Linked DNA regions of Homo sapiens: region 1 is linked to region 2. The links come from fine-mapping of genetic effects on gene expression. A gene starts in region 2. The other region holds a variant in brackets. All regions are shown on one strand. Distances are between the middles of the regions.

Region 1 (15,639 bases), 87 kb after region 2:
TTATACAAGCATCTTCACATCTCTGAGCCTTTGTGTACACATCTATAAAATATGGACAATGTGGCTGGGCATGGTGGCTCACACAGTCCCAGCACTTTGGGAGGCCGAGGCGGGTGGATCACTTGAGCTCAGGAGTTCAAGACCAGCCTGGCCAACATGGTGAAACCCCATCTCTACTAAAAATATAAAAATTAGCCAGAAATCGCTTGAACTCGGGAGGTGGAGGTTGCAGTGAGCTGAGATCGTGCCACTGCACTCCAGCCTGGGCAACAGAATGAGACTCTGTCTCAAAAAAAATAAAATATAGACAATGCTTTTGGCACACTGTATGGATAAAGCACATAGCACTGTGACCTGGCCATTGGAGAGGCAGCATTGCATTGCAGCTAAGCTTGCAGGCTTTGGAGTCAGCCAGACCTGCATTTGAATCTTACTCATCTGCTTTTTGTTTTGTGTCTTTATTTGTGTGTGTGTGTGTGTGTGTGTGTGTGTCAGAGAGAGACTGTTCTAAGCAAGCACATTACATGGAAGTAACTGGAATTGGAACTCAGGCACGTTGGCCTCCAGTAAGCATGCTTGTACTGTTACCCTACACGGCCCTTAGGTTAGCACAGAGAGATTATTTATTTATTAAAAAAAAATTTTTTTTTGAGATGGGGTCTCACTCTGTCACCTAGGTTGGTGTGTAGTGCTACAGTCTCAGCTCACTGCAACCTCTATCTCCCAGGCTCAAGCAATCCTACCACCTCAGCCTCCCAAGTAGCTGGGACCATAGGCGCACACCACCACACCTGGCTATTTTTTTTTTTTGGTAGAGATCGGCTTTCTCCATGTTGCCCCGGCTGGTCTTGAATTCCTGAGTTCAGGCAATCCGCCTGCCTCAGCCTCCCAAAGTGCTGGGATTATAGGTGCCAGCCACCAAGCCCAGCCCAGAGAGATTATGTGTAACTCTCTCTACTACTAGTTCCATGGGGGATAAGGACCATACATACATTACGTTCCATTCTGTTCTGTGTTTTAGCACAGTGCCTGGCACATAGTTGGTGCTCATTAAATGTTCATTGAATGACTAATTGACTGATGAAATAAATGAAGGTAGAGACTCTTTATGAAGCTGCCTGTGCTGGATCCAAGACCATTGATATCTGTTGCAAATGGAAGTTGTTAATGAGACTCAACAAGTTAGTGGAAAATGTTTTGAGTGTTTTATGAGATTCTCTTTTTTTTTTTTTTTTTTTTGAGACAGGGTCTCACTCTGTTGCCCAGGCTGGAGTGCAGTGGCGAGATCTTGGTTCACTGTAGCCTCAACCTTCCAGGCTCAGGCGATTCTCCCACCTCAGCCTCCCAAGTAGCTGGAACCACAGGCATGTGCCACCACGCCCAGCTAATTTTTTGTTCACCATGTTGCCCAGGCTGGTCTCAAACATGGACTCAAGCAATCCACCCACTTCGGTCTTCTGAAGTGCTGGGATTACAGGCGTGAGCCACTGTACCTGGCCTTTTTTTTTTTTAATTGGTTAATTTATTTATTGAGGCGGAGTCTCACTCTGTCGCCCAGGCTGGAGTGCAGTGGCACGATCTCGGCTTACTGCAACCTCTGCCCCCCGGGTTCAAGCGATTGTCCTGCCTCAACCTCCCGAGTAGCTGGGATTACAGGCGCCTGCCACCGTGCCTGGCTAATTTTTGTATTTTTAGTAGAGACGGGGTTTCACCATGTTGGCCAGGATGGTCTTGAACTCCTGACCTTGTGATCCACCTGCCTTGGCCTCCCAAAGTGCTGGGATTACAGGCATGAGCCACTGTGCCCGGGCTTTTTTTTTTTGTTTTTTTAATTAACTTTTTTAAATTTTAAATTTGAGACAGGGTCTTGCTATGTTGGCCAGGGTGGTCTCAAACTCCTGGCCTCAAGCAATTCTCCCACCTCAGCCTCCCAAATTGCCGGGATTATAGGCCTGAGCCACTGCACCCAGCCACAGGATTCTCTTAAAACCACAAACTTACCATACTTTCTAGATGTTTCCTTTCCCTCCTATGCATGATATAGTTAGCCACTATCTAATTGAAAGGTGTACTAGTCACGTTAGGCTAGACTATGATAATAAATAAACCCCCAAATCTCAGCGACTTAACAACGCAACCCTTATTTCTCATTTGTGCCAAGTCCAATGTGAACTGGGCAGCTGTTCAGGACAGCTCCTTTCTGTGGCAGCCCAGGGATCCACGCTCTGCCATCTCAACATGTGGTCTCCACGGTTGCTACTAAAGGGAATGAGAAAGTGCGGATAACTCACATTCACTTGCAACCTGGAAGCAACACGTGACACTTCTCCGAGCCCTTGGGCCGGAGCTAGTCACATGTTCCTGTGGAACTGCAAGGAGCCTGGGAGGTGTGGTTCTCCCTGGTACCCAGGAAGGAGAAGAGAACCAGATCTGGCTGAGCCTGAAGTCTCTACCACAGTCTGTTCTGCTGGTCTCCATGTACCGCATTGGATTTGCTCTTCTTCCTACACACAACACACAACATGAAACTGCTTTCCAAGAGAGAAAACCCAGAGTGATGTGCAGCTCCTGCCTCCAGCCAGGATCTCATGGGCTGCCCTAGGGTCTCTTTATGAGGTCTAGAGGTGGCCTTTTTTGGTCCAGAGATGTAGGAATTTTAAAAAGTTACCTGTTGGGGGCCGGGTGCGGTGGCTCACGCCTGTGATCCCAGCACTTTAGGAAGCCAAGGGGGTGGATCACCTAAGGTCAGGAGTTCGAGACCAGCCTGGCCAACACAGTGAAACCCTGTCTCTACTAAATATACAAAAAAAAAAATTAGCCAGGTGTGGTGGCACGTGCCTGTAATCCCAGCTACTCAGGAGGCTGAGGCAGGAGAATCGCTTGAACGCAGGAAGCAGATGTTGCAGTGAGCCAAAATTGTGCCACTGCACTCCAGCCTGGGCGACAGAGCGAGACTCCGTCTCAAAAAAAAAATAAATAAAAAATAAAAATAAATTTTAAAAGTTACCTGCTGGGCACAGTGGCTCACACCTGTAATCCTAGCACTTTGGGAGGCCGAGGCAGGTGGATCACTTGAGGACAGGAGTTTGAGACCAGCCTGGCCAACATGGAGAAACCCCATCTCTACTAAAAAATACAAAATTTAGCCAGGTGTGCTGGCGCATACCTGTAATCCCAGCTACTCGCGAGGCTGAGGCACAAGAATCATTTTAGCCTGGGAGGCAGAGGTTGCAGTGAGCTGAGATCATGCCACTGCACTCCAGTCTGGGTGACAGAGCAAGACTCTATCTCAAAAAAAAAAAAAAAAAGGCAGGTTACCTGCTTCTCCCTTCCCACCCCCACGCCATACACAAAGGTGGAGTAGGGGCAGGGACAGGATAACCACAGTAAGGATACCCCGGGAAGTGGGAGCTGAGGCCTTCTGGGCAGACCTTGTGGAGGGGTAGGGAAGTTTCTGGAAGGAACTACCTTCATCGCTGCTCTCAGGGCCGCTTGGCTCCCTCATTTAAAGCTCTTTTTCCCCTACCTTACTTTACTCGATCATATCTGAAGTAGGGATTGTGTGTTCCACCCTCCTTGAGGGTTGTGTGGATTTCTCAGCCCACTTCCTGCCCATGGAAGTTTTAAGTTTCAAATAGTCACAATCTTTTTAAAGACCAGGCCCATGGCCAGGGGCGGTGGCTCATGCCTGTAGTTCCAGCGACTTGAGGCTGAGGCGGGAGAATCTCTTGAGTCCAGGAGGTTGAGGTCACAGTGAGCTATGATTGCGCCACTGCACTCCAGCCTGGGTGACAGAGCAAGACCCTTTCTCTAAAAAAAAAAAAAAAAAAACAAAAACCAAACAAAAAAAGCCCCATTTTTTTTGGGCATTACTGTTTTCTCAAAATTTCAGTAGGCCTCTCATCTGTCTGCTTCCAGTGAGTTTCATATGCCTGAATGTGACAGTTAATTTGTGTCTCAATTTGTCTAGGTGACTGGGTACCTGGATATGTGATCGAGTATTCTTCTGGGTGTTTCTATGAGGATGTTTTTGGATGAAATTGGCATTTAAATTGGTAAACTGAGTAAAGCAGTCTGTCCCCCTAACCGGGGTGGGCTTCATGTAATCAGCTCAAGGTTTGAATACAACAAAAAGACTTACACTCTCGCAAGTGAAAGGCAATTCTTTCTGCCTGGTAGCCTTCAAACTGAGACACAGGCTTTTATCCTGCCTTCAGATTCGCCTGGGAACACTGGCTCTTCCTGAGTCTCAAGCCTGCTGGCCTTGAGACAAGAACTACATCAGCTCTCTCAGTTCTCAAGCCTTTGGACTTACTCTGGAACTAAGCCATCAGCTCTCTTGGGTCGTCAGCTTGCCAACCAACTCATCCTGAAGATCTTGGGACTTGCCAGCCTTCATAGTCACGTGGGCCAATTCCTTTTTTTTTTTTTTTTTTTGAGATGGGGTCTTACTCTGTTGCCCAGGCTGGACTGCAATGGCACGATTATGGCTCACTGCAGCCTCAACCTCCAGGGCTTGAGTGATCCTCCCACCTCAGCCTCCCAAGTAGCTGGGACTACAGGCACATGCTACCATGCCCAGCTAATTAAAAAAAATTTTTTTTTTGTAGAGACGGAGTTTCACTGTGTTGCTCAGGCTGGTCTTGAACTCCTGAGCTCAAGCAACCCTCCACTTCAGCTTCCCAAAGTGCTGGGATTACAGGCATCACTGGCCCAGGCAGAGCCAATTCTGTATAATAAATCTGTCTCTCTCTGTCTCTCGTGTATGTGTGTGTGTGCACATTCTGTTTTGCTAGAGAATGCTGACTAATACAGAATCACATCCTAATTTATTTCCTAAGAAGTTCTCAAATCTTCATTTCTTTGCTTATGCCGCAGTAACAAACAAAACCCCAAACCTTAGAGGCTTAAAGCAGCAAGGTTTATCTCTCTATCACATCCCAGTGTGCTGCAGGAAAAGCAGCTCCAGGGCAGCTGACTCCATGCAGTGACTCAGAGATCCAGCCTGCTTCCATCTTTTGGTTCTTCCATCCCAAGTGTGATTTCTACCCACAGAGAATGGAAAACTCACACCCACCTCTAACTACTCAGACTGGGAGTGGCACTGCTCAATTCCACCCACAGAACCAGCCATGTGGCCCTTATCTAACTGCAAGGAAGGCAGGAAAATGCAATGATAATCATAAACATTTCTTGAGTGCTTTCTCTATGCCAGGCTGTGTGCTAAGCATGTAAATATTGTCTTTTCTGTATTCCAAGCCTAAGTCTCTTAAAGTTCTACTGTGACCTCATCATACAGCCAAGGAAACAGGCTCGGAGAAGTTAAGGAAGTTGTCCAAGGGCACATACCTCATAAAGGCAGGGCTGCAGAATTGAACCCAGATCTCTGTGCATTGGAAACCCACCCCCTTGACCCCTGTCCTGGTTCCTTGCTCATCTCTGCCAAGAATATCTTCATTCCATCTGAGGATTGGGAATGGCTTCTTATTTTCTGCCTCATCTCATTTCATCTTCCCCGCGAGTCATGAATTTTTAAACCTTGTGTGAGATCAACAAGTTCACCCAGAGGAGACAGTAAAAGAACAGAACAGGCAGGAACAGAACAGCCATCAGATACACAGGATAGAGTCTTCCAGGAAATGCCCACTGAGGGGAGAAATGAACCACAAGTGAGGCCAGGATTGTGGGAGGCTGTGAGGGAAAGCAATCCGGTCATCAGGGGAATCATTTCCTTTTACGAAAGAGAGAGAGATGGGACTTAGCCATTAGACTTGGGCTATTTCAGTTCCTGGTAATGACACAGCTCAGTGAATAGAACCCCCAAAGCACTTTCGGAAGGGGGGCCCCAGTCCTGGGCAGCTCTCCTGCCTTAATCACTGCAAGTCACAGAGCAGAGAAACTGGAAATGGGCAAAATCGATGACAGGCCTGCCTGCAGACCACGCCCTGGACCCAACCTGCGCCCCCACGGTCATTATGTCACCCATCACTCCTTGGTGCTCACACAGCTGAGCCCATGAAGCAGGGCAGCCCCCACTCCCAGGACTAGACAGAAAGGTGGTTGCACGAATCCAGGGCTCCATGCTCTTCCCCATCGCAGGGAAGACAGGGCCTCACAGACTTGATGTCCTCCCAGTCAGCTCTTCTCTGCCATGATCCCCTTTATGCTGCGTCCCAGCTTCAAACTGCTCCCCTGAAAGGGTCAGTTGGAGCAGCTGAGCTTGGGGCATCTCACCTGGGTGAGCTTTGTTGGTGGGCTCAGAAGAATCTGGGTTGGGAAACAGTACTCTGGGGGCAGAATGAGGGGTTCAGTGAGCCCTTGTGTCCTTTGTGGGCACCTTGGAGTCTGGCTTGGGAGAAACTCCCTGTGCAGGTCCAGCAGGCCTAGAGGCCAGGCTGAGTGTGGGTTGGCATGAGGCCGACTCCCCTCCATGCCCCGCTGTAATAAGGCAGAGGGGAAGGACCTTGGAAGGGGGTAGGCTGGGGTCCTGCTATGTCACAGATGGCAGGTGAGGGGCCCAGGGGGAGGGGACGTGGAACCAGCCATCACTTCAGTATATGAAGACAGAGCTCCAAGTTCTCCAGGCCAAACAACACATCTCAAACTAAAGCAAGCCAAACCTCCTATCCTGGCTCAACCCCCTCTTCACAGGCAACAGGATCAGAGGGAGGCAGTTAATTAAGAAGGGTCACATAGCACTATTTGTGCCAGAGCCAGACCTCAAACTCAAGCCTAGAAAAGGCTCAGAAAGGGGCAGGCATGTAACCTCAGATCACCTGAAGCCAAGAAACATTACTCTAGGCTTGTCCCAGCCTCCAGCATGGGAATTTCAAAAGTAGGAGTATAATTACCCTCTCCCTGCCACCCCCAGCCTCCTGGGCTGGGAGGGCTCAGTGCCTTTAGCTGCATCCCAGGGATCTGTTTCCCATTTCTCAATCATCTTAGCTGATTCGAACAATTTCAGACCTTTCTTCTGTGAATTTTTCACCCAGCAGTGCCCAGCACAAACTGAGGACCATGAGAGGGGTGAACTCTTTAAAAGGATTTTTAGGCCTAGCATGGTGGTTCACACCTGTATTCCCAGCACTTTGGGAGGCCGAGGCAGGAGGATCCCTTGAAGCCAGGAGTTTGAGACCAGCCTGGGCAACAAAGCAAGATCCTGTCTCTATAAACATTTTCTTAAAATCTTTTTATTTTTTTTTCTCTATAGAGGTAATCAGGTTTAAAAAGAGATTTAAAAAGTCATAGGAGGTCAGATTTTGAAAATAGATCTGAGAACCTCTAGCTCAACCTTTGAGGCAATATCAAAGTGGTCACCAGCATGACCTTTGAAGTCAGGATGTCTGGGTTCAAATAATGGCTTTTCCCCTTAGTAGCTGTGTGACCTGTGACAAGTTACGCAGCCTCTCTGTGTCTGAGTTTCTTCATCTATAAAATGGAGGAGCTGATACCACCCACCAGGTAGGAATGCGGTGAAGTTTAATTGTGCTAATCATGGGAAGTGCTTAGAAACAGTCCCTGATACCTAACGAACCAGTGAAAGTTTGCTCTTATTGTCATCCTGTCAAGCTGTTGCATGCCTCCTGGGATGGGGAACTCACTCCCCCCAGGGCAGCCTGTTCCCCTATTGGATTATTTTGTGTGTTAGGAGGCTTTTCTATCCATTAAGCTGAAGTATGCCAACCTGTCTCTTCCCTACAAGAGCCCTGGCTTCCCTCTGAGGGCGGCTATAAAGACCCACATCAACCAAAGCAAAATGACACACACTTGGTGGTGTGTGGCTCATTCACTTCAGTTAATCCTCTTTTAGGGAACTGCAGCCCACATGGCCCAGCACAGAGCGCAGATGTCTGTCTCTGCTCAGGACTCAGCACTCAGTGGTGGTGTGCTCTGGCCTCGGGAGCCTGTTAGGGCCTACCCCACTGATCCCAGCCAAGGAACTCTATGGGCTGAGACCCAGCATGTCCTCTCACTGGGTCCTCTCTGCTAACCTAGTGTGTCTGTAGCCTCTGCCTTCGTATGGGAGGGAAACAGGGGAATCTTTTTTTTTTTTTTCTGAGATGGAGTCTTGCTCTGTCGCCCAGGCTGGAGTGCAGTGGTGTAATCTCGGCTCACTGCAACCTCTTACTCCTGCATTCAAGGAGTTCTCCCTGCCTCAGCCTCCCGAGTAGCTGGGATTACAGGCGCCCACCACCATGCCTTGCTAATTTTTGTATTTTTAGTAGAGACGGGGTTTTGCCATGTTGGCCAGGCTGATCTCGAACTCCTGACTTCAGGTGATCTGCCTGCTTTGGCCTCCCAAAGTGCTGGGATTACAGGCATGAGCCACTGTGCCCGGCTGGAAACGGGAATCTTACTGCCCAGGACTGGGCAGAGCTAGAAAGTAGGAGGCAGTTGCCCATCTGGCCAGGGCAGCCCATCCCTTTGGAAAATCATCCCTTTGGAAAAGCCCAGTGCTAAGGTCCCGGCGCTTTCTGGAGAATTTGCTGGTGTGTTCCAGAGGGCGGGGCATAGATTCCAGGGTCAAAGCTGAGTTTGGATCCCAGCTCCACTCCTCCCTGTCTGCGAGGCCTCAGGCAGTTTCCTCACATGTAACATGGGCAGGATTATAGTAGTTCCCACGTAGAGCCGGGAGTGAAAAGCGATGATGAGGTGATTCGTAGCTCAGCTCTGGCACAATAAAGTGCTGAATAAATGGGGACAGATATGGGAAGGGAGTGGGATGAGGTGGGCCTAGATTTTCCAGTATGGAAGGACTTTTAGTCTGTTCCTTCATTTTGTAGATAGAAGGACTGAGGTCCACAGGTGACAGGTCCAAAAGTCACGCTGCTCTTGGGTCACCTGGCACCTGGGCTCCCGCTCCTTGTGGGCTCCAGCGCTTGCCCTCCCGGAACACTCCTTGCCCAGACGCAACCCTCCTGTTCTGGAGGGATGGGTGAGTGAGGCTTGGGGTGGGGCTGTGGCCAGGTCGACGGAGCTGCTCTGTCCCCAACTCCTAGGACCCCCCGACCCCGGTCTTAGGGATTCATCTGCGGCATCTCCTGCAGTTCCGAGTTATGGCCGCTGGGTGTCGCCACACAGCAAAAAACCCACGGGCCGCCGGGAGGACGGGACCTAATGGGGGCTCTGATGGGACAGCGCCGGCCAGACCCTGATCCCCGACCCTTGAACTCCTGCCCAGGTCCTTGGTCGGCTACAGCCTAGAGCCTCCCTAAGAGAAGCCCTAAGGGATGATTTCAAACCTTTCTACCACCCCTCCTTGCCCCCTCCACCTGCTAAAAGGAAAACCTGGCTACAGCCTACCTGGGGGCTGCTTCTCCCAGCTGAGCCTCTCCTCCCCACGCAGTGCTCCAGCCACGCTGCACTAGTCAGGGCTCCCAGCCTGCTGGACACCTGTCTCCGCCTTTGTGTTTGTCGGGCTTTCCACGTAGAGGGCCCTTCCTTATCTCTGCCTGGTGCAGGCCTGTTACCTCTTGTGCATAGGGTATTTCAAATCCACCAGCGACCCTGCTAGGTAGGCACAGTTATCCCTGCCTGCAGGTACAGAAACAGGCTCAAAGAGAGGAAGCCCCGAGTCACACACAGCAGAAGCAGGTTTTGAACTCGGGCTCCCACAGTGAGCTTTCTTTTGCTACATCTGAGATCCTTCCTAAACCGTGGGCTCTCTGAGGCCAGGGCCATGTGGATTTCCTGTTTGTAACCCTTAGGCCCAACCCTTTGCCTAGCAGGCAGTGAGTACTCAAAAGGAACCTCTTTCCCTAGCTCTTAGATGGCACCTACCGTGTGCCAGGTACTGGGCTAAATGCTTCGTGCGTACCACAACCCTGCAGGTAGTTACCATTATTATACTCATTCTCCAGAAGGGGAAACTGAGGCACAAGGAACATGCACTGTCTTACGGTTATCTAGTGGCAGAGACAGGACCCACACCATCTGGCTTCAGAGTCCAAGCTCTTGCTCGTAGCCACTTATCCAGGCACACTTAGAGGAGGGCCCCTCTCTCCCTTCACCCTGTGAGCACCTCACCTATGGTGGTCTCACCCTTTGTGCTTCGTGTGTGGAACTCCCACGAGCCTCTGTAGTAGAATGGGAGCACTTTGCTGGAGGGCAGGGCTGTGTGCACTCACTCCTGTGTCCTTGTGCCCTGTGATCCCTGAACAGAATCGTTAGTCCGGAGGGTGGGTGCCAAACGTGCTTCAGCTTGCCTTCCCATGGGGGGCTGGGTGAGGACACGAGTGAGCCTCCACCCTGGCAGGCCAGGTCACTACAGGATGAATG[C/T]GGCAAGGGCATCTCCTGGGTGAGGAAAGGAGATGCCTCCTTTCCCTTTATTCAGCCTTCATTCATACCTCACTCTCCCCTGAGAGCAGGGGTGCTCTGAAGCCAGCTCTACCGGCTCAGGAGAGCTGAAGGCGAAACTTCCAGGAAATTGGCAAGCTGGTTTTTAACTCTGCCATTGTTAAAAATTAAATTACTGGCCGAGCGCGGTGGCTGACGCCTGTAATCCCAGCACTTTGGGAGGCTGAGGCAGGCAGATCACTTGAGCTCAGGAGGTCGAGACCAACCTGGCCAACATAGTGAAACCCCATCTCTACTAAAAATACAAAAATTAGCTGGGCGTGGTGGCGTGCACCTGTAATCCCAGCTACTCAGGAGGCTGAGGCAGGAGAATTGCTTGAACCAGGAGATGGAGGTTGCAGTGAGCTGAGATCGTGCCACTGCACTCCAGCCTGGGGGACAGAGCAAGACTCCATCTCAAATAAATAAATAAATAAATAAATAAATAAATAAATAAATAAATAACTTAAACCTGCAATTTAATGAATTATATTAAAAACAAAAAAAAATACCTAAAACTCATCACCCCTTAATTATGTGAGTACATTTTTCTATTATTTGTGCTGTCGAGGTTACTTACGCCCATTATGTCTGCATGATGGGACTACTCCCGTACAGTGGTGAGCGACCTTCCCATGTCCCGGTTCAAAGACACTGTAGTGGTGGTTTGAAAGCAGCCCTGATGGGACCACTGACATCACAGAAATTGGCAAATGCTGCAAAGTAGGGCTATCCCACCCCACCCAGAGATCTAACTGTTACAACATTTACAAGCCTGAAAGCCAATTTGAGGCAAAAAGGCTGTCATGGAAGAAGATTCTCACTGTGGAGTTTGCGCACTCAGATTTGAGTCCAGGCTCCGTCTCCACCCACTGTGGGGCCTGGGCTATTTCCCCTTGAGCCTCGCCTTTCCTATCTGCAAAATAAGACTAAAAGTACAGCAGCTTTTGCAAATTGAGCATTTGCCGAGTGTGGTGGCTTGCCCCTGCAATCCCAGCAACTCAGGAGGCTGAGGCAGGAGGATCACTTGAGGCCAGGAGTTCAAGACCAGCCTGAGCAACATAGCAAGACGCTGTCTCTACAACAAATAAATACATAAATAAGCAAGTCAGGCAGGGGGGAGCACACCTGTAGTTCTGGCTACTTGAGAGTCTGAGGCAAGAGGATTGCTTGAACTTAGGAGTTGGAGGCTGGACTGAGCTATGATGGTACCTCTGTACTCCAACCCAGGTGAGAGCATAAGATCCTGTCTCTCTTAAAAAAAAAAAAGAGCATTTACTACCTGTCAGGTGCTGAATCCATGCTCTTGCTAAATCTGCCAGCAGCCCTGTGAGGTGGGTGCAGTCACGTCCCTTGCGAAGATGGGGATTTGGGGGCGTGAAGAGGATAAGTACCTCATCAAAGGTGACAGATCAGATTTGAACCACACTCTTAACTGCTGCGGTTTATTGGCCCTACAATAATAGTGCCCAGTTCACAGGGTGGTTTGGGGGATTACACGACGTAATGTGTGTTAAAGGGCTTAGCACAGATTCAGCTCCAGAGGAACATAGTAAATGTTGATTTACCGAGAGGCAGAAGAGCGGGATCCACATCCACCCACGTTTGAATCTCAACTTGGCTATTTTCTGATTGCGAGATCTCTGGAGTCAAGTCATTTTGCTTATCTAAGCCTCATGTTCCCCCAGTGAAAATGGGGATAATCATAGCTACTGAAGAGCTGCTCAGAGGATGGAGATAGAGGATGTAAAGTATCTGCCGAGAAGTGGGTACTTTATGGGAGTGAGTGTTCGGGATTATCTTTTATTTTATGTCACGCAGACAGCAACTCTTCCCAGCCCTGTGGAGGAGGCCGGAGGTTGGGGCCGGAGCCCTGGAAGCAGGGCCTTGCTCGGGCAGCTTCTGACCCTCCCCTCCTGGCCAGGTCAGCCCCTCAGTGGGCCCTGGCCCTAGAAGGTCTCAGAAGCCTGGGGACGCTGTTGCTAGGCACCAGTTGCTAGGCTACACATTGTTTCTCCTGCTTGGCCTCCTCCAGGAGGGCTGGCTTCTCTGCAGAGCTCTGCTTCCTGCAGCCTCTCCCCGACCTCAGAGCCTCTGCAGAGGAAAGGTGAGGGTGGGGCCGCTGTGGTTGGGCCTCGGGGAGAGTGCAGCCAATTCCCAGGGGAGGCAGGCAAGGCCAGAGGCGGGCAAGGCCATGGAGATGAGGGAGAGAGAGGAGCCGGGGGCTGGGAGTGAGCGCCTCGGCCTGACTTCTTGGGTGGGGGCCAAGAATTCCCCAGGTAGTGGGTTGTCGGCTCATTCATTCCGAGAGGTGGGTATGTAAGGTTCAGGTCAGGGGCCGAGTAGTCAAACACCTAGGTCTGAATCCCAGCACTACCACCTATTATGGAGCAAATCCTTTATCACTTGGAACCTCACTGTCCCAGTGGTAAATGGGGACAGGAAGAGTTAATAAGAAGGTGTGGGAAAGTGAGAGGAGACATGAGGACTCTTGGGATAAGTGTGGATGATCGGTTTCGTCCTTAGTTTAGGGACTTGGGAGCTGGGGCAGAGAGACAGAGGCCTGGGAGAAGGGGCCAGCTGCGTTGTGGGTGGTGGGGGGCAGATCTTCGCCCCTGTGGGCTTCCGAGCCAGGCTTGGGACCCATGAGGCTCCCCGTGCTTCCTTTCTAGGCCCCCTGGGGCCCTGCCCCACAGCATCATGATGGGGAAACTCCCCCTGGGGGTCGTCTCCCCTTATGTGAAGATGAGTTCGGGGGGCTACACGGACCCCCTGAAATTCTACGCCACCAGCTACTGCACCGCCTACGGTGAGGGTGCCTTTGCGCAGGAGCCTCTGCTAGGACATGGGCAGGAAGGGAGGGGCTCTCTCTGAGGGAGGAGCAGACCCTCTGGCTGTCACACTGCAGAGCAACTGCTGAATCCGTTTGTCCCCTGGGCCCTGCCCGGCTGCTCCCTTCTCTGGTTCTGTCCCTGCAATTCTGTCACTGTGATTCTGCCACACTGACCTTGTCCCCAGCCCACCCACTCCATTTCCTGCCATCACAGTCCTGAAAGGGCAGGCTTGCAAAGCTCCTGCCCGTGGCTCTGAGCCCTCCCCTGTCACTGTGACCCCTGTGCCCCTCGGAGGACGCTGGCCCTGCCTGGGAAGCCCTGCCTGTTTTTGACCTTGGGGTCTGTCTCCCCGTTACCCCTCTGGCAGGTCGGGAGGATTTCAAGCCCCGTGTGGGCAGTCACGTAGGCACCGGCTACAAATCAAATTTCCAGCCCGTGGTCTCATGCCAAGCCAGTCTGGAGGCCTTAGACAACCCGGCCAGGGGGTACGGTCTGTATGGCCCCTTCCCAGCCCCTGCCCTGCTCATCAGACCAACTCCAGGTTCCTTGGATGGGGACCCTGAGCTTTGCCTGCCCTAGGCTGGGGGTCCTGGGTGACTCAGGGCACAGCGGACCTCTGAGCCATCTGTGGGAGGGTGCAGGGAGGAGGGAAGCTCCTTAGCAGAGGACAGAGGCAGGCGGCCTGGGGTTCTAGCTCCTCCTCACCCTCAGGGAACAAGCCCAGGACCATTTCCAGTCTGTGGCCAGCCAGAGCTACCGCCCCCTGGAGGTGCCTGACGGCAAGCATCCCCTGCCCTGGAGCATGCGCCAGACCAGCTCAGGCTATGGGCGGGAGAAGCCCAGTGCGGGTCCCCCCACCAAGGAGGTCAGTGCTGGGCCAGGGCCAGGAGAGGGAAGCCTCAGGGTGGGGTGGGGCTAGGGCTGCACTGCCAACAGTTGGTCAAGGTGGAGGTGACAGGGCATGGAGCAGCCACCTTGTAGGGATGGGGTCCACTCATCTTTCTCCCCTTTGTCCTCATCCTTGTCCCCACCATCCCCACCACCTCTATTCCCTGCCCCAGCCCCACCATTACCTCCACCTCCATTTCCATCCCCATCCCTGTCCCCATTCCCATGAGCCTCACACTCCCGTCCACACCTGCAAGCCCCATCACTGTCCCTACTACCACCACTGTCCCCCCACCATGGACATCCTCACCCCATCTTTTTCATTTCTTTTTCTTTTTTTTTTTTTTTTTTTTGAGATGGAGTCTCACTCTGTTGCCCAGGCTGGAGTGCAGTGGCACGATCTCGGCTCACTGCAACCTCCACCTCCTGGGTTCAAGCGATTCTCCTGCCTCAGCCTCCCCAGTAGCTGGGATTACAGGCATGTGCCACCACACCCGGCTAATATTTTGTATTTTTAGTACAGACAGGGTTTCACCGTGTTAGCCAGGATAGTCTCAATCTCCTGACCTCGTGATCTGCCCGCCTCAGCCTCCCAAAGTGCTGGGATTACAGGCGTGAGCCACTGCGCCCAGCCCCATCTTTTTCATTTCTATCCTCATTATTACCACCCTTCTTATCATCAGCACCACCACCAAAATGGACACTCATTCATTCATCCAGCGAGAATGTTCTGAATATCTCCTTCATATTTGAAGATGATAAGAGCGGGTGGAGTGCGGGGTGGGGCGGGGGTTAGGAAATACAACAGGGAGAAGCAGGGAGGAAGAGAAGTGAAGGAGTTGGAGGCCAGGTGCGATGGCTCACACCTGTAATCCCAGCACTTTGGGAAGCTGAAGCAGGCAGATCACTTGAGGTCAGGAGTTTGAGACCAGTCTGGCCAACATGGTGAAACTCCATCTCTACTAAAAATACAAAAACTAGCTGGGCATGGTGGCACGCACCTATAATCCCAGCTACTCAGAAGGCTGAGGCAGGAGAATTGCTTGAACTCGGGAGGCGGAGGTTGCAGTGAGGCTGAGATTGCCTGGGCAATAGAATGAGACTTGGACTAAAAAAAAATAAAGCCAGGCGTGGTGGCTCACACCTGTAATCCCAGCACTTTGGGAGGCTGAGTCAGGTGGATCACTTGAGGCCAACTGCTGTTGGGTCAGCCTGGCCATCATGGTGAAACCCCATCTCTACCAAAAAAATACAAAAAAAAAATAGCCAGGTGTGGTGGCTTGCATCTGTAGTCCCAGCTACTTGGGAGGCTGAGGCACAAGAATTGATTGAACTCAGGAGGTGGAGTTTGCAGGAAGCTGAGATCATGCCACTGCACTCCAGCCTGGGCAACAGAGCGAGACTCTGTCTCAAAAAATGTAAGTAATAAATAAATTAGAAGCGAAGGAGTTGCAACTGCAAATCGGGAGGGTCGGGAAAGAGCTTGCTATGGAGACACTGGACAAAAACTTGAGGGAGGCCAGCTCCTCCAGTTGCAGCTGTCTGAGGGAGGAGTGGTCCAGGCAGTGCCAACAGCAAGTGC
Region 2 (15,498 bases):
CCCACACCTCCGCCCAAGCTCTGAACCCCACATAGGGAACTCAGACTCCACGCAGCTCAGTTAAAGACAGAAGATCTAAAGTGGCCAGGTGTGGTGTCTTGCGCCTATAATCCCAGCTACTCAGGAGGCTGAAGCCAGGAGTTCAAGACCAGTGTAGGCAACATAGTGAGGAACCACCCCCCAATCTCTAAAAATAAAATAAAATAAAATAAAAAAGATCTAAACTGAAAATTGGAGCTGCCAACTCAATAAGGGTGACTGTAGTATATATGTAACTGAGCTAACCGCCTGATAAAATTAAAAAACATCACTCTTTGGGGAAAAGTAACTGAAACCAGAGTCTCCAACATTTACAAGTGCCACCAAAGAGATGGTCCAGATATCGGAATTAACAAACAAGGATATGAAAGCATCAATGAAAATATTATCTCAAAGCTGGGCACAGTGGCTCACGCCTATAATCCCAGCACTTTGGGAGGCCCAGGCGGGCGGATCAGCTGAGATCAGGAGTTCAAGATCAGCCTGAACAATATGGTGAAACCCCGTCTCTACTAAAAATACAAAACTTAGCCGAGCGTGGTGGCATGTGCCTATAGTCCCAGCTACTCGGGAGCCTGAGGCGGGAGAATCGCTTGAACCCGGGAGGCAGAGGTTGTAGTAAGCTGAGATGGTACCACTGCACTCCAGCCTGGGCTATAGCGAGACTCCGTCTCAAAAAAAAAAAAAAAAAGAAAGAAAGAAAGAAAAGAAAATATTATCTCAGTAAATTAAAAGACAGGCAACCTCGGGCTGGGTGCAGTGGTTCATGCCTGTAATCCCAGCACTTTGGGAGGCCGAGGTGGGTGAATCACCTGAGGTCAGGAGTTCAGGATTACCTTGGCCAATATAGTGAAACCCCATCTCTACTAAAAATAAAACAAAATTTAAAAATTTAAAAAAAATGAAGCTGAAATAAAAACATTTTCAAATAAAAGAAAACTAAGAGAATTAGTGCTGCACTATAAGAAACATTAAGGCGGGGCACAGTGGCTCACACCTGTAATCCCAGCACTTTGGTAGGCCAAGGCAGGTGAATCACTTGAGGTCAGGAGTTCCAGACCAGCCTGACTAACATGGCAAAACCCTGTCTCTACTAAAAACACACAAAAAAATTAGCCAGGCATGGTGGCCCATGCCTGTAATCCCAGCTACTCGGGAGGCTGCAGAGGGAGAATCACTTGAACCCAGGAAGCAGAAGTTGCAGTGAGTCGAGATCACGCCACTGCACTCCAGCCTGAACTCTGTCTCAAAACAAACAAACAAACAAACAAACAAAAGATAGGCCAGGCACGGTGGCTCACGCCTGTAATTCCAGCATTTTGGGAGGCCGAAGCGGAACACCTGAGGTCAGGAGTTGGAGACCAGCCTGGCCAACATGGAGAAACCCTGTCTCTACTAAAAATACAAAAATTAGCTGGGTGTGGTGGCACATGCCTGTAATCCCAGCTACTCGGGAGGCTGAGGCAGGAAAATCGCTTGATCCCGGGAGGTGGAGTTTGCAGTGAGCTGAAACCTCGACACTGCACTCCAACCTGGGTGACAGAGTGAGACTCCATCTCAAAAAAAAAAAAAAAAAAAAAGATAGTATTTAGGTAAACATAAAGATTATTTTTAATTTTTTTCTATTTTTTCTTTCTAGTAAGATGAAGGTCTCACTATGTTGACCAGGCTGGTCTCAAACTCCTGGCCTCAAGCAACTCAAGCAATCATCCCACTTCAGCCTCCCAAAGTGCTGGGATTACAGGCATGTGCCACCACTCCTGTTTAATTTTTGTATTTCTAGTAGAGACGGGGTTTCACCATGTCGGCCAGAATGATGTCGAACTCCTGACCTCAACTGATCCGCCTGCCTCGGCCTCCCAAAATGCTGGGATTACAGGAGTGAGTCACTATGCCCAGCCGGTCCCAGCACTTAGGGAGGCTGAAGCAGGAGGATCACTTGAGACCAGGAGTTTGAGACCAGGCTGGACAATATAGCAAGACCTTGTCTCTATTAAAAAGAAAAAATTAGCTAGGCATGGTGACATGTGCCTGTAGTCCTAGCTACTTGGGAGGCTGAGGCAGAAGGATTGCTTGAGTCCAGGAGGTCAAGGCTGCAGTGAGCTATGACTGCAGCACTGCACTCCAGCCCTGGGCAACAGAGCAAGACCCTGTCTCAAAAAAATTAAAAAAAAAAATAGAAAAAGTAAAAAAGTATTAAACTATAATAAGAGAGGAATTATAAGGAAGTAAAGAGGGAAGTACCCAAGGAAGGGCAAACTCAGTAGGGTCCCCACCCCCAAGGCAGGGGTTCAGACTTCACTGCATGCCACTCACTGGGCAGTGTGAAGTTCACTGATTAGCCCAGGCCAGAGCTGTTTCACAGTTGCCAGGCAAGAAACAACCCTCCAGGCCAAAAGCAAGCTAAGGCTGGTAGGCAGGTGCTTAGAGCACATGGGGACACCACCTGCCCAGAGCACATAGCAACACCACCTGCCCAGAGCACATAGCACCCGCATTGGGAGGCCCCTAGGAAACAACCTTCCAGGTCGCAGGTGAGCCCCAGCTGTCAGACAGATGCATCAAAAGAGCTGGAATGCCCCATGTGCTTGGAGTGCATGGTGTCCACACAGGATATGGAGGATGGGAATCAACCCTCTGGGATGCAGAAGAACTCAGATTGGTGAGCAGACGCACAGAGGAAGTTGGGGCACAGCCTTGACCGCACGTTGTCCATGCCTGGAGGGCTTTGGGGAAAACCATCCATGGCATAGGTAAGCCAAGACTAGGGGGCAGGTGCACAGAGTTAGGGAGCTGCCCCAGGTGGAAGGCCTGGAGTAAGCGGCAACCATGACAAGGAGTCCACAGCAAGTTGGTCACGGGGCCTAGACCAGATCGGCAAAGTTGCCAAGGGAGTGCCGGCTTTGGGTGTGCAGCTGGAGTGGAACACCAGCAGATCTCCCAAGGCGTGCCCTGCTGATGGACGATGGAGCAAGGCCCCTAGCTGGAGTGCACTGGAACCAGAAGACAAGCCCTTTCCTTCCTGCAATGTCCTTCTAGCGTCCTCTGCTGACAAAGCCTAACATTGTACTCATTGTAGGGAGAAATGCTTCGAGTCTAGTTATCGCTTAACAGACACCGAAGGGTAGGTAAATAATGAAGCTGAGAGGCAAAAAATAGGTAACTGGCAGAAACCATTCTTCCAGCTACTCCACTACCATATGCACTCTTTACACAAATTTTGAACTCCCTTAGTAGCTACATTCCTACTAACAAGATATCTCCTCTCTAAAAGTGAAGTTCTCAGCCTTCCCCCAAATGATAAGACACACAGTCCAAACAGTCACTGTATCCATAGCTGGCTAGATTACTCCACAGATTTGTCGTGATCCCTATTACCTAAAAACTATTACCTAAAAACTATTACCTGTGTCTATTACCTAAAAACTAGATTGTAAAGTTGACCTCCAACAATTTGCACATAAAATAACAAAGGGAGGCAAAAGACATGGTCAGTACATACAAATAAACACATGCATGTAAGAAGCAAAGAAGAATATGCATCGCTGCTACAGTCCTCGTTTTTGTAACTGATCATTTTTGTAACTAATCACGGTCATAGTTGACATCCATGGTTTCCTTAGAAAAATCCGAAGGCTGCACACTGGAACCCGGGAGAGCCTCTTTGTTTCTGCAATAGCCCTCTAGTGCCCTCTGCTGACAAAGCTTAACACTGTACTCACTGTACGGGATAAATGCTTAGCGTCGATCCGGTTATCATGGAACAGAACAGGTACTGAGAGTGAATCTGGAGCTGAGGCAGTGTTGATAACTGCCATACTAGGAAACCACTAAATATTCAGAAATTAAATAAGGCTGGGCACGGTGGTTCACGCCTATACCATGTCACTCGAGCTCAGGAATTCCAGACCAGCTTGGGCAACATGGCAAAACCCCACCTCTACTAAAAATACAAAAATTAGCCAGGCGTGGTGGCACGCACCTGTAGCCCCAGTTACTCGGGAGGCTGATGCATGAGAATAGCTTGAGCCTGCAAGGCACAGGTGGCAGTGAGCTGAGATCGCACCATTGCACCGCAGCGTGGGCAACAGAGAGTCTGTCTTAAAATAAATAAAATAAAATAAAATAAAATAAAATAAAATAAAATAAAATAAAATAAAATAATAAATAAAATAAAATACACTTATAAATAGCCCATGGGTCAAAGAAGAAATCATAAGGGAAATTAGAAAACACTTTGAACCCAGCTGGGCGCAGTGGCTCATGCCTGTAGTCCCAGCACTTTGGGAGGCTGAGGCGGGTAGATCACTTGAGGTTAGGAGTTCAAGATCAGCCTGGGGGCAACATGGTGAAACCTCATCTCCACTAAAAATACAAAAATTATCTGGGTGTGGTGGCACACACCTGCAATCTCAGCTACTTGGGAGGCTAAGACAGGAGAATTCCTTTGAACCCAGGAGGTGGAGGCTGCAGTGAGCTGAGATCGCACCACTGCACTCCAGCCTGGGCAACAGAGTCAGACTCTGTCTCAAAAAACAAAAACAAAAACAAAACAAAACAAAACAAAAAACCTAAAGAAAGTAAGAAGAAGGAAATTATAAAGAGCAGAAATTTGTAAAATAGAAAACAAATTTTATACGATGAAGAAAAAGAAAGTCGAAAGCTGTTTTTAAAAAAATTAATAAGGCTGGGCACGGTGGCTCACACCTGCAATCCTAGCACTTTGGGAGGCCGAGGCGAGTGGATCATGAGGTCAGGAGTTCGAGACCAGCCTGGCCAACATGGTGAAACCCCATCTCTACTAAAAATACAAAAATTAGCCGGGCGCAGTGGTGGGCGCCTGTAATCCTAGCTACTCGGGAGGCTGAAGCAGGAGAACTGCTTGAACCCAGGAGGCGGAGGCTGCAGTGAGCCGAGATCACACCACTGCACTCTAGCCTGGGTGACAGAGCAAGACTCTGTCTCAAAAAAATAAAATAATAATAATAATAATAATAAGAAACCAGGCATGGTGGCTGATGCTTGTAATCCTAGCACTTTGGGAGGTCGAGGCAGGTGGACTGCCTGAGCTCACCAGTTCGAGACCAGCCTGGGCAACATGACAAAACCCTGTCTCTACTAAAAATACAAAAAAAAAAAGCCGGGAGCAGTGGCTCACACCTGTAATCCCAGCACTTTGGGAGGCTGAGGCGGGCAGATCATGAGGTCAGGAGATCGAGACCATCCTGGCTAACACGGTGAAACCCCGTCTCTACTAAAAATGCAAAAAAAATTAGCTGGGCATGGTGGCGGGTGCCTGTAGTCGGCTACTCGGGAGGCTGAGGCAGGAGAAGGGCGTGAACCTGGGAGGCGGAGCTTGCAGCCAGCCGAGATCGCACCACTTCACTCCAGCCTGGGCGACAGAGCAAGACTCCGTCTCAAAAAAAAAAAAAAAAAAATTAGCCAGGTGTGGTGGTGCATGCCTGTAGTCCCAGCTACTTAGGAGGCTGAGGCACGAGAATTGCTTGAGCCTGGGAGGCAGAGGTTGCAGTGAGCCAAGATCGTGCCACTGCACTGCAGCCTGGGCGATAGAGTGAGACCCTGTCTCATAAAAAAAAATAAAAAACAAAAATAAAACGTTAATAAAATTGATAAACACCTATCAAAACTATTGAAGAAAAAAATATGAAAGAAAAGGGACATCACTGCAGTTCTTACATCCATTAAGTAATATTTAAGGATTGCCTGGTGACTTTTTTAATTTTTAAAAATTAATTAGTTATTATTATTCTTTAGACAGAGTCTCGCTCTGTTGCCAGGCTGGAGTGCAGTGGCATGATCTTGGCTCACTGCAACCTCCACCTCCTGGGTTCTAGCGATTCTCCTGCCTCAGCCTCCCAAATAGCTGGGACTACAGGCATGCACCACCACACCTGGCTAATTTTTTTGTATTTTTAGCACAAATGGGGTTTCACCATGTTGGCCAAGCTGTCTTGAACTCCTGACCTCAAGTGATCCGCCTGCCTTGGCCTCCCAAAGTGCTGGGATTACAGGTATGAGCCACTGCGCCCAGCCTGACTACTGACTTATAATACAGAAAAAAAAAGAATTGAGGAATGTTATGAAAACCTTCACACCAATACATCTGGAAATGTATACAAAATGATTTACCCAAACCTTATTCAAGGTTTATGCAAACACAAATTCACCCAAACCTTACTCGAGAAGTAGAATATCTGAATGTTCTTATATATAGTACAGGGATTTCATTATTTTAAACTCCCCCCCACCAAAAAAAAAATTTAGGTTTAGATGGCTTCATCAGTGTATTCTTTCAAATACTTGAAGAAGAAATATTACCTAGCTTACACTATCTCTTCCGGAGAATAGAAAAAGAAGAAATACCTTTCGCTTTATTGGATGAAGCCACCTTAACCTTAATACCCACCCTTGACAAGGTCCTTGACAAAGTTAAATTACAGACCAATCTCTCTCATGATACATATGTAAAACCTGAACAAAATTAGCAAATGAAATCCAGTGACATATAAAAAGGATAACATATCTGTGTCAGGGGTCTCCAAGATCACACCCAGTTTGGATGATTTGCTATAAGGACTTATGGGACCCAGCATACAGGTGTATTCATGCCTCTGATCTATTACAGTGAAATACAAAGCAAGGTCAACAAAGGGAAAAGATACATGAGGCACAGTCAAGGAGAAACTAGCAGCATGCTTCCAAGAGGTCTATCTCAGGGGGAATCACACAAGACGTTCATCATTCCTCCAGCAACAAATTCTGATAACATATGTGCAATGTTGTCTACTAGGAAAGCTCACTTGAGACTCAGGGTCCAAGTTTTATTTTTTTTATTTTTATTTTTTTAAACAGTTATGGTTCACTGCAGCCTCTTCCCTCTACCTCTTGGGCTCAAGCAATCTTCCTGCCTCAGCCTCCGAAGTAACTGGGACTACAGGTGTGCACCACCATGCCTGGCTAAATTTTTTTGTTTGGGTAGAGACAGGGTCTCACTGTGTTGTCCAGGCTGGTCTTGAACTCCTGAGCTCTATTGATCCTCCTGCCTCAGCTTCCCAAAGTGCTGGGATTACAGGCATGAGCCACTGGACCCAGCCCCCAAGGTTTTTACTGGGAGCTGATCATGAAGGCACCCTCTGCCTAACATGTTTCAAAACTCCAGACTCTGAGAAGGAGAACAGGTATTTAGCATAAGCCACATTGTTTGTACAGTTTAGGCACTGTGAGCCACTTTAAACTGGTGGGAACACTACCAAAAGCCAAGTTCCCTTACGCCAGGCAAGGGTCAACCTTGCAGTTGGGCCTCTCCAAAGACAGCAGCCTCAGGTCTGCTATGTTAAGTTTTTTCTGTACAGTCTCATAAGCAAATGGGTTTTTTATTTTTTCCAGGAAGACATGGTTGGTCATACCTCTGAAAATCAATGTAATTCATATTAGCAGAATAAAGGAGAAAAATCATATAGTCCTCTCAACGGATTAAGAGAACACACTTAATAAAATATATCATAAGCCTTTTAGCAAACTAGGATAATAAGGGACTTTCTTAATCTGATAAAGAGTATCTACAAAAAAAATCTATAGCCACCATATTAATGGTGAGATATTGAACGCTTCCCCTGAGGTTAGGAACAAGACAAGACTATCCATCATCACCACTTATAGTCAACATTACACTGCCAGTCCTGGCCAGTGCAATAAGGCAAGAAAAAGAAATTGAAGGTATAGAGATTGAGAAGGAAGTAAAAATGTCTTTATTTACTGATGATGTGATCATGTACATAACAAGCCTCCTAGAAATAATCAATTTAGCAAGGGCACTGGCTGTTGGGACAGTCTTGCATGGGTCCTAAGCATCCCTGCATGTTCTTACTATGTCAAACCAGAAAGTCTGTCTCCTGATACTGAGCACAGAAGCAATTAAGTAGACCAAAGTGACTATAGTGTGATGATAGTATAATTTCTCCCTCCCCAGTGGAAAGGGCCTGGCTTTATTTGCTGCTTGCTAAAAAGGGTACTGAGCCTTTGGCTCTGGGCTCCACCAAGCTGTGGCATAACTCCTTGAGTGCAGCACCATCTGGGGTCATTGTGTCACTCATAGGACTTGGGAGCAGGGGGCCCCCAGGTTGCCATGCTGATGTTCCTGCTGTTTGCCATAAGTAATTTGGCCTCACTGTCAGCTTTTGGCATCTATGAAGTTGTGGCATACTCTGACATAGATTAGCCAACTTTTTCTTAAAGGGTCAGATGGTATTTAAGGCTGTGGGCCATGTGGTCTCTGTTGCAACTACTTAACATTGCCATAATAGCATGAAAGCTGCAATATATAATAACATGTAAGTAAGTGACCATGATGACGTTCTCCAAAGAACTTTTATTTACAAAAACAAGCAGCTGGCCCACTTTCTTTGTTTTTCTTTTGAGACATAGTTTCACTCTTGTTGCCCAGGCTGGAGTGCAATGGCTTGGTCTCAGCTCACTGCAACCTCCGCCTCCCAGGTTCAAGCGATTCTTATGCCTCAGCCCCCCAAGTAGCTGGGATTAGAGGCATGTGCCATCATGCCCGGCTAATTTTGTATTTTTAGTAGAGATGGGGTTTCACCATGTTGGTCAGGCTGGTCTTGAATTCCTGACCTCAAGTGATCCACCCGCCTCAGCCTCCCAAAGTGCTGGGATTACAGGTGTGAGCCACCGCGCCAGGTGCAGCTGGCCCACTTTCTTTCCATATCAGGCTCAGAGCAGGAACTTTTCTAATGTCTCTTGTCTTGCAGGCAGCGAAGATGGGGAAGCAGGATCTGGATTCCTTTCCACCTTAACCTCTGTGCTCTGCGCTTTCCTACTTACCCTAAAGGGCTTCCTTGCCCTCCAGCTTGCAGTTAAGTTGTGTCAGCGGGAGACATAAGCAGAGATCAGAGATGGGAGAAGGGAAATGGAGGTCCCTGCTATATTTATCCACTAGCCTCCTAGAGTGTGAGGGTTCCTAGTGGGAGGCCTTCTATGCACATATTACTCTCCAGCTTCAGGGAATTGTTTCAGGCCCTTCCCTTTTAAGCCTAGAAGTAACAATTACCGCCCCACCACATCCCAATTAGCCAGGGGTACAGCACTTTGCTTAAAGCTTAGTCACTCTTGGCCGGGGGCATTAATCACACCTGTAATCCCAGCACTTTGGGAGGCGGGGGGGGGGGGGGGGGGGGGGGGGGGGGGCGGGTCACCTGAGGTCAGGAGTTCCAGACCAGCCTGGCCAACATGGTGAAACCCCGTCTCTACTAAAAATGCAAAAATATTTAGCCGGGTGTGGTGGGGGGCACCTGTAATCCCCGCTACTTGGGAGGCTGAGACTGGAGAATCGCTTGAACCCAGGAGGCGGAGGTTGCAGTGACCAGAGATAGCGCCATTGCACTCCAGCCTGGGTTACAAGAGCAAAACTCCGTCTCAAAAATAAAATGAAATAAATAAAATAAAGCTTAGTCACCTTCCTCAGGCTACCTGGTTGGAGCGTGCCATCTGTTTCCTGCTTTACCCTGATTGACAACGGGCTAACAGCCAAGTCAAGTCAACCTGAGTCCTCTCAAAACCCTTCTTTTTGCACTCCCCTGCCTGCAGCAACACAGTTTTCTGTTTTTTTTTTTTTTTGAGACAGAGTCTCACTGTCGCCCAGGCTGGAGTGCGGTGGCGCGATCTCAGCTCACTGCAACCTCCGCCTCCCGGGTTCGAGCGATTCTCCTACCTCAGCCTCCCAAGTAGCTGTAACTACTGGCGCGCGCCAGTACGCCCGGCTAATTTTTGTATTTTTAGTAGAGACGGGGTTTCGCCATGTTGGCCAGGCTGATTTCGAACTCCTGACCTCAGGTGATCCATCACCTCGGCCTCCCAAAGTGCTGGGATTACAGGCGTGAGCCACTAAGCCCGGCCAGCAACACGCTTTTACCGCTGCAAATCCGGATCAGGCAGGCTTTGAAGCCCAGCTCACAGGCCGTCTCTTGGAAACTAACTTAGATTTCCACCTGGGAGCACTTTGTCCTCTCAGCTCCCACTGCACCACTTTATGGATCGCGTGGTGACTCGTTTCATTTTATTTATGTGTGTTCCTGGAAAGGACGCTCTATTTCCTTCGTGTCTCTACCTGGTAGGTAAATCGGCCGCAGAAAAGACCAATGCTAACTCCACCCTGCATTTGCAGAGATCCGTCGCTCACACCTTTTCTTGTCTTCCGTTGAAAAAAGAGAATCGTGGGAGTAGGACCTATTTGCCAATCTCCTGGTAACACTATCACAACTGGCCACTTCCGCCCAACGCCCGGTAGTCTGAGAGCCTCCAAGGTCCTCCCCCGCACCCCTGAGGTCCTGCAGACGACGGCGTCGTGGGTGGTCACCGTTATCCCTTAGGTCTGGAGAGGGGACATCCGAGCGAGGGCCACTTGCGGCCAGGCCCGAGCTCGTCCAGCTCCGGGTGACCACAGAGTGCCGCGGGCGGGCAGAGGGGCCGGAAACCCAGGCCGCTTCGTCCCTGTTTCCGGCAGCGCCGCGCTGCTCCGGGAGCCGCTGTGGCAGCGTATGCTGCCACGGGGACTGAAGATGGCGCCGCGAGGTGAGATTCCGGAGGTGTGTGAGTCGCTGGTCCCTTTCCCTTCGGTCGCTCCCTCCCACCTCTGTCCCAGAGCTTGACCTAAACCCTCCATTCTCTAGCGTTAGGGACGTCGCGCCTCCCTGGTCCAAAGCCGGCTTCCGCGGTCCCGCCCACCCTGGGTGCCTGAAGGTCTCAAGGTGCACAGCTCAAATAAACGCAGATCCTTGGCTGGGCCACTTCTAGGCTGGCTCAGGTGCGAATCTGTTGGTCTCTGCGCCCCAACTTCCCCTCCCAAATAGTGACAGAGTGAGATCTTTGAGATGTCTGTCAGCTGCGAGTTACCTCTTGACTTTTATTCCTGAAGCCGAAGAGTCGAGTTTCACGGTGATTCCTAGGAAAGGAGGGAAGCCCCCTCCACTCCCACCCCCGTACCCTCGCCCCCTCATTATCAGCAACCAGAAGTGCCCCTGAGTGGCCGGTCCCATTAGTTGCAGCGTCTAGTTTCCCCAAAGTTAGACACCAACCCATACGAGCAGAGAGGGAGCTGCCTTCCGGCCCATCCCACTTCTCTGTGCTCCTTTTTCAGGTAAACGGTTGTCCTCCACCCCGCTGGAAATCCTGTTCTTTCTGAACGGGTGGTATAATGCTACCTATTTCCTGCTGGAACTTTTCATATTTCTGTATAAAGGTAAGGAAGGCTTGGGGCTTGACGACAGCATCCCTTCCCCACTTCAGCTCAGAGCCAATTCCTACCAAGAACCTTCTTATTTTCCGTTCTTTTCTGCCCCCTGCAGTTCTTTGTCGCTGCAAGGCAGGCCTCCTCATCAGATGGCTTCTTTGAGTATGATTCCATAGGCAGCCCCTCAGCAAGAATTTCTTGAGTTTGAGAAATGTGGGCTTCTCCATTCTGACTCTGCCCACATCACTGCTCTTTGCTGAGCTCCACTGTAAGCCCACTGGTGACCCTTAGAAACTATTCAGTGGCCTGTGTACCCATGTACATCCAATCATTTTGGAGAGTGGAGTCCCCAGAGACTTTTGGAGTTAGGAGTAAAACACCATAATAATGAGCCTGAGTCGCATTGTGAGTTTATGTATCCTGCTGCTGTAATAATGCCCACATCTCACTAACTAGTTCATGGAAAGCTGAGACTGATGTCCTCTTTTTTCCCAAGTGTGTGGCAGTTCTTGTGGGTGCTGTTATATGCTGTTTGCAAACTCTGGCTTTTGTATTGGCAGGTGTCCTGCTACCATATCCAACAGCTAACCTAGTACTGGATGTGGTGATGCTCCTCCTTTATCTTGGAATTGAAGTAATTCGCCTGTTTTTTGGTAAGTGTTGTCCAGAGAATATTTCCACTCCTTATGAGACAAGCTGGTATCTGTAACTTGATTAACAAGAAAAGTACATAACCTAGGTTGACTATCATAGACTGGATCTGTATATCCTATTACTCCGTCTCTGAAGTTTCAAGTTGCTGCTTCATACATTGGGTCAAGATTTACCTGTTTGTTGCTCTGTAAGGCTAGAGATGGGCAATAGAATGGGATATTAGATGATTCCTTCCCAGCTGCCTAACTGCAAGAAGAGTGCTTGGTTCTTCTCACTAGTATTCTTAGGGGAATAGGTTCAGTTGTAACTCCACGTCAGGGCAGGCAGTGTATCCTGTACAGATCAGTACTAAGATCCCTAACAATTCTCTGAATAAGGATCTCTGTAGGAGTTTTTTGTTTTTTTTTTTTGAGATGGAGTCTCACTCTGTCCCCAGGCTGGAGTGCAATGGCACGATCTCGGATCACTGCAATCTCTGCCTCCCGGGATCAAGCGATTCTCCTGCCTCAGCCTCCTGAGTAGCTGGGATTACAGGCGTGCACCACTGCTCCCAGCTAATTTTTGTATTTTTAATAGAGACGGGGTTTCACCATGTTGGCCAGGATGGTCTCGATCTCTTGACCTTGTGATCTGCCTGTGTCGGCCTCCCAAGGTGGTGGGATTACAAATGTGGGCCACTGCACCTGGTTGGATTTTTTTTTTTTTTTGAGATGGAGTCTCACTCTGTCACCTGGGCTGGAGTGCAGTGGCACCATCTCGGCTCACTGCAGCCTCCGCCTCCCGGGTTCAAGCAATTCTCCTGCCTCAGCCTCCTGAGTAGCTGGGACTGCAGGCGCCTGCCACCATGCCCGGCAAGTTTTTATATTTTTAGTAGAGATAGAGTTTCACCATGTTGGCTAGGATGGTCTCGATCTCCTGACCTCATGATCCACCCGCCTTGGCCTCCCAAAGTGCTGGGATTATAGGTGTGAGCCATCACACCTGGCCAGATTTTGTTTTTTAAACATTTATTTATTTGAGACAGGGTCTCATTCTGTCACCTAGGCTGTAGTACAGTGGTACGATCATAGCTCACAGCAGCCTTGAAGCCCTGGGCTCAAGCAGTCCTCCAACTTCAGCCTCCTGAGTAGCTGGGACCACAGGTGTGCGACATCATACCTGGCTAATTTTGTGTTTTTTGTAGAGACAGTGTCTTGCCTTGTTGCCCAGGCTGGTCTGAAGCTCCTGGCCTCAAGCAATCTTCCTGCCTTGGCCTCCCCAAGGTGCTGGGATTACAGGCGTGAGCCAACATGCCTGGCCTGTAGGACAAGTTTTATAACCCCAGAAATACAGAGCAAAACCCTTATTTGTTAGAATATGTCATCCCTGAAATCAACGTTAAAGCACAAACTTAGGAACAAAATTACTTGCAACATATAAGAAAGGATAAAAGAAGGCTCACATAAATCACTAAGGAAAAAACAAAATAACTTTAAAAATTGGCTGGGCGCAGTGGCTCACGTCTGTAATCCCAGCACTTTGGGAGGCCGAGGTGGGTGGATCATTTGAGGTGAAGAGTTTGAGACCAGCTTGGCCAACATGGTGGCCGTCTCTACTAAAAATACAAAAATTAGCTGGGTGTGGTGGCGCGCACCTGTAATCCCAGCTACTTGGGAGGCTGAGGCAGTAGAATCGCTTGAACCCAGGAGGCAGAGGTTGCAGTGAGCCAAGATCGCCCACTGCACTCTAGCCTGGGCGACAAAGTGAGACTCAAAAAAAAAAAAAAATTGGTAAGGGACATTAATGGCAGTTCATGTAAAAATAATTACAGAGAACCAGTAAAACTTGACAAGATGCTCAAACTCGCTAATAAAAATCAAATTGAAACAAAGTAACATTTTTTACCCATCAGACTGGCAAAGAAAGATTTATAACACCCAGTATTAGGGTGTGGGGAACAGGTTGTTATACACTTTTGTGGTAATTTAATTTAGTACAACTCTTGGGTAGTAGTTATTACTGTGTAATGTTTTACTGTTAGCCCCAACAATTTCACTTCTAAAACTAGATTAAAAAAAAATTCCACAGATATGCGAAGATAGCTATATGAGAATGTTTATTGCCAAAAATTTGGTAACATCAAAACACTGTAAACAAACTAAACATCTGTCCATACGGGATTGTTAAATCAGTTACGGCACTGATTCAACGGACTTGTATATAACCATTAAAAAAGAACAGTTGCTGGGCATGGTGGCTCACGCCTGTAATCCCAGCACTTTGGGAGGCTGGGGCAGGCAGATCACGAGTTCAGGAGATCGAGACCATCCTGGCCCACATGATGAAACCCCATCTCTACTAAAAATACAAAAATTAGCTGGGTGTGGTGGCACGTGCCTGTAATCCCAGCTACTCGGGAGGGTGAGGCAGGAGAATCACTTGAGCCCGGGAGGCGGAAGTTGCAGTGAGCCGAGATTGCACCACTGCACTCTAGCCTGGCGAGAGAGCTAGACTCTGTCTCAAAAAATTAAAAAAAATTAAAAAGAACAGTTAAGGCCAGGTGCAGTGGCTCACGCCTGTAATCTTAGCACTGTGGGAGGCCGAGGCGAACGGATTGCCTGAGGTCAGGAGTTCGTGACCAGCCTGGCTAACATGGTGAAATCCTGTCTCTACTAAAAAATACGAAAATCAGCTGGGCATGGTGGCGGGCACCTGTAATCCCAGCTACTTGGGAGGCTGAGGCAGGATAATCGCTTGTACCTGGGAGGTGGAGGTTGAAGTGAGCCGAGATCGCTCCATTGCACTCCAGCCTGGGTGACAAGAAACTCCGTCTCAATAAAAAAAAAAAAAAATTAGCTGGGCATAGTGACGTGTACCTATAGTGGGAAGATCCCTTCAGCCCAGGGGTTCGAGGCTGCAGTGAGCTATGATGATGCAATTGCACTCCAGCCTGGGTGACAGAATTAAACACTATCAAAAAAAAAAAAAAATTAAGGTAGCTATGTGTGTGGAAAAATGTTTGTGGGGGAAAAATAAGTTGCAAAACAGGATGTAGGGTATGCTTCTATTTTTATAATAATAAATAGTAATATGTGAATATATACGTATAAAAAATCTGAAACAATACACGTCATTCTCTAATAATCTTCAGGGTGTAGGGACATGGAGGTCTTTCACTTTCTATAGTCTCAAAAATTATTTTCTGTGTTGAAATTTTTTTTTTTTTTTGAGACGGAGTCTTGCTTTGTTCCCCAGGCTGGAGTGCAGTGGCGTGACCTCTGCTCACTGCAAGCTCCACCTTCCGGGTTCACACCATTCTCCTGCCTCAGCCTCCCGAGTAGCTGGGACTACAGGCGCCCGCCACCACGCCCGGCTACTTTTTTTGTATTTTTAGTAGAGATGGGGTTTCACCGTGTTAGCCAGGATGGTCTCCATCTCCTGACCTTGTGATCCACCTGCCTTGGCCTCCCAAAGCGCTGGGATTACAGGTGTGAGCCACTGCACCCGGCCATTGAAAATTTTTAAATGATTATATATTATTTTTATAATTAAAAATTTTGTTT

Direction of the effects. Alleles are on the strand shown, and positions count from the first base shown. SD is a standard deviation of normalised expression in the study named.
For the expression in spinal cord of the gene that starts at base 10,566 in region 2, C is the high allele of the variant in region 1 and T is the other (moderate effect, 0.51 SD a copy in GTEx).

What was found.
Region 1: its variant is fine-mapped to the expression of TMEM216 in spinal cord (GTEx, PIP 0.92).

The regions. Positions count from the first base shown.
Region 1 is chr11:61,468,775-61,484,413 of GRCh38, forward strand. SAXO4 (stabilizer of axonemal microtubules 4) reads left to right here and starts at 12,346. Exons shown (of 14, transcript NM_145017.3): 1 at 12,346-12,442; 2 at 13,008-13,144; 3 at 13,537-13,654; 4 at 13,881-14,034. The coding sequence starts at 13,036. RefSeq lists an enhancer at 13,783-14,077. The variant C/T (reference allele first, on the strand shown) is at 10,279.
Region 2 is chr11:61,382,022-61,397,519 of GRCh38, forward strand. It overlaps TMEM216 (transmembrane protein 216), which reads left to right and starts at 10,566. Exons shown (of 5, transcript NM_001173990.3): 1 at 10,566-10,644; 2 at 11,210-11,311; 3 at 11,863-11,955. The coding sequence starts at 10,611. RefSeq lists a silencer at 3,643-3,802 and an enhancer at 10,331-11,292.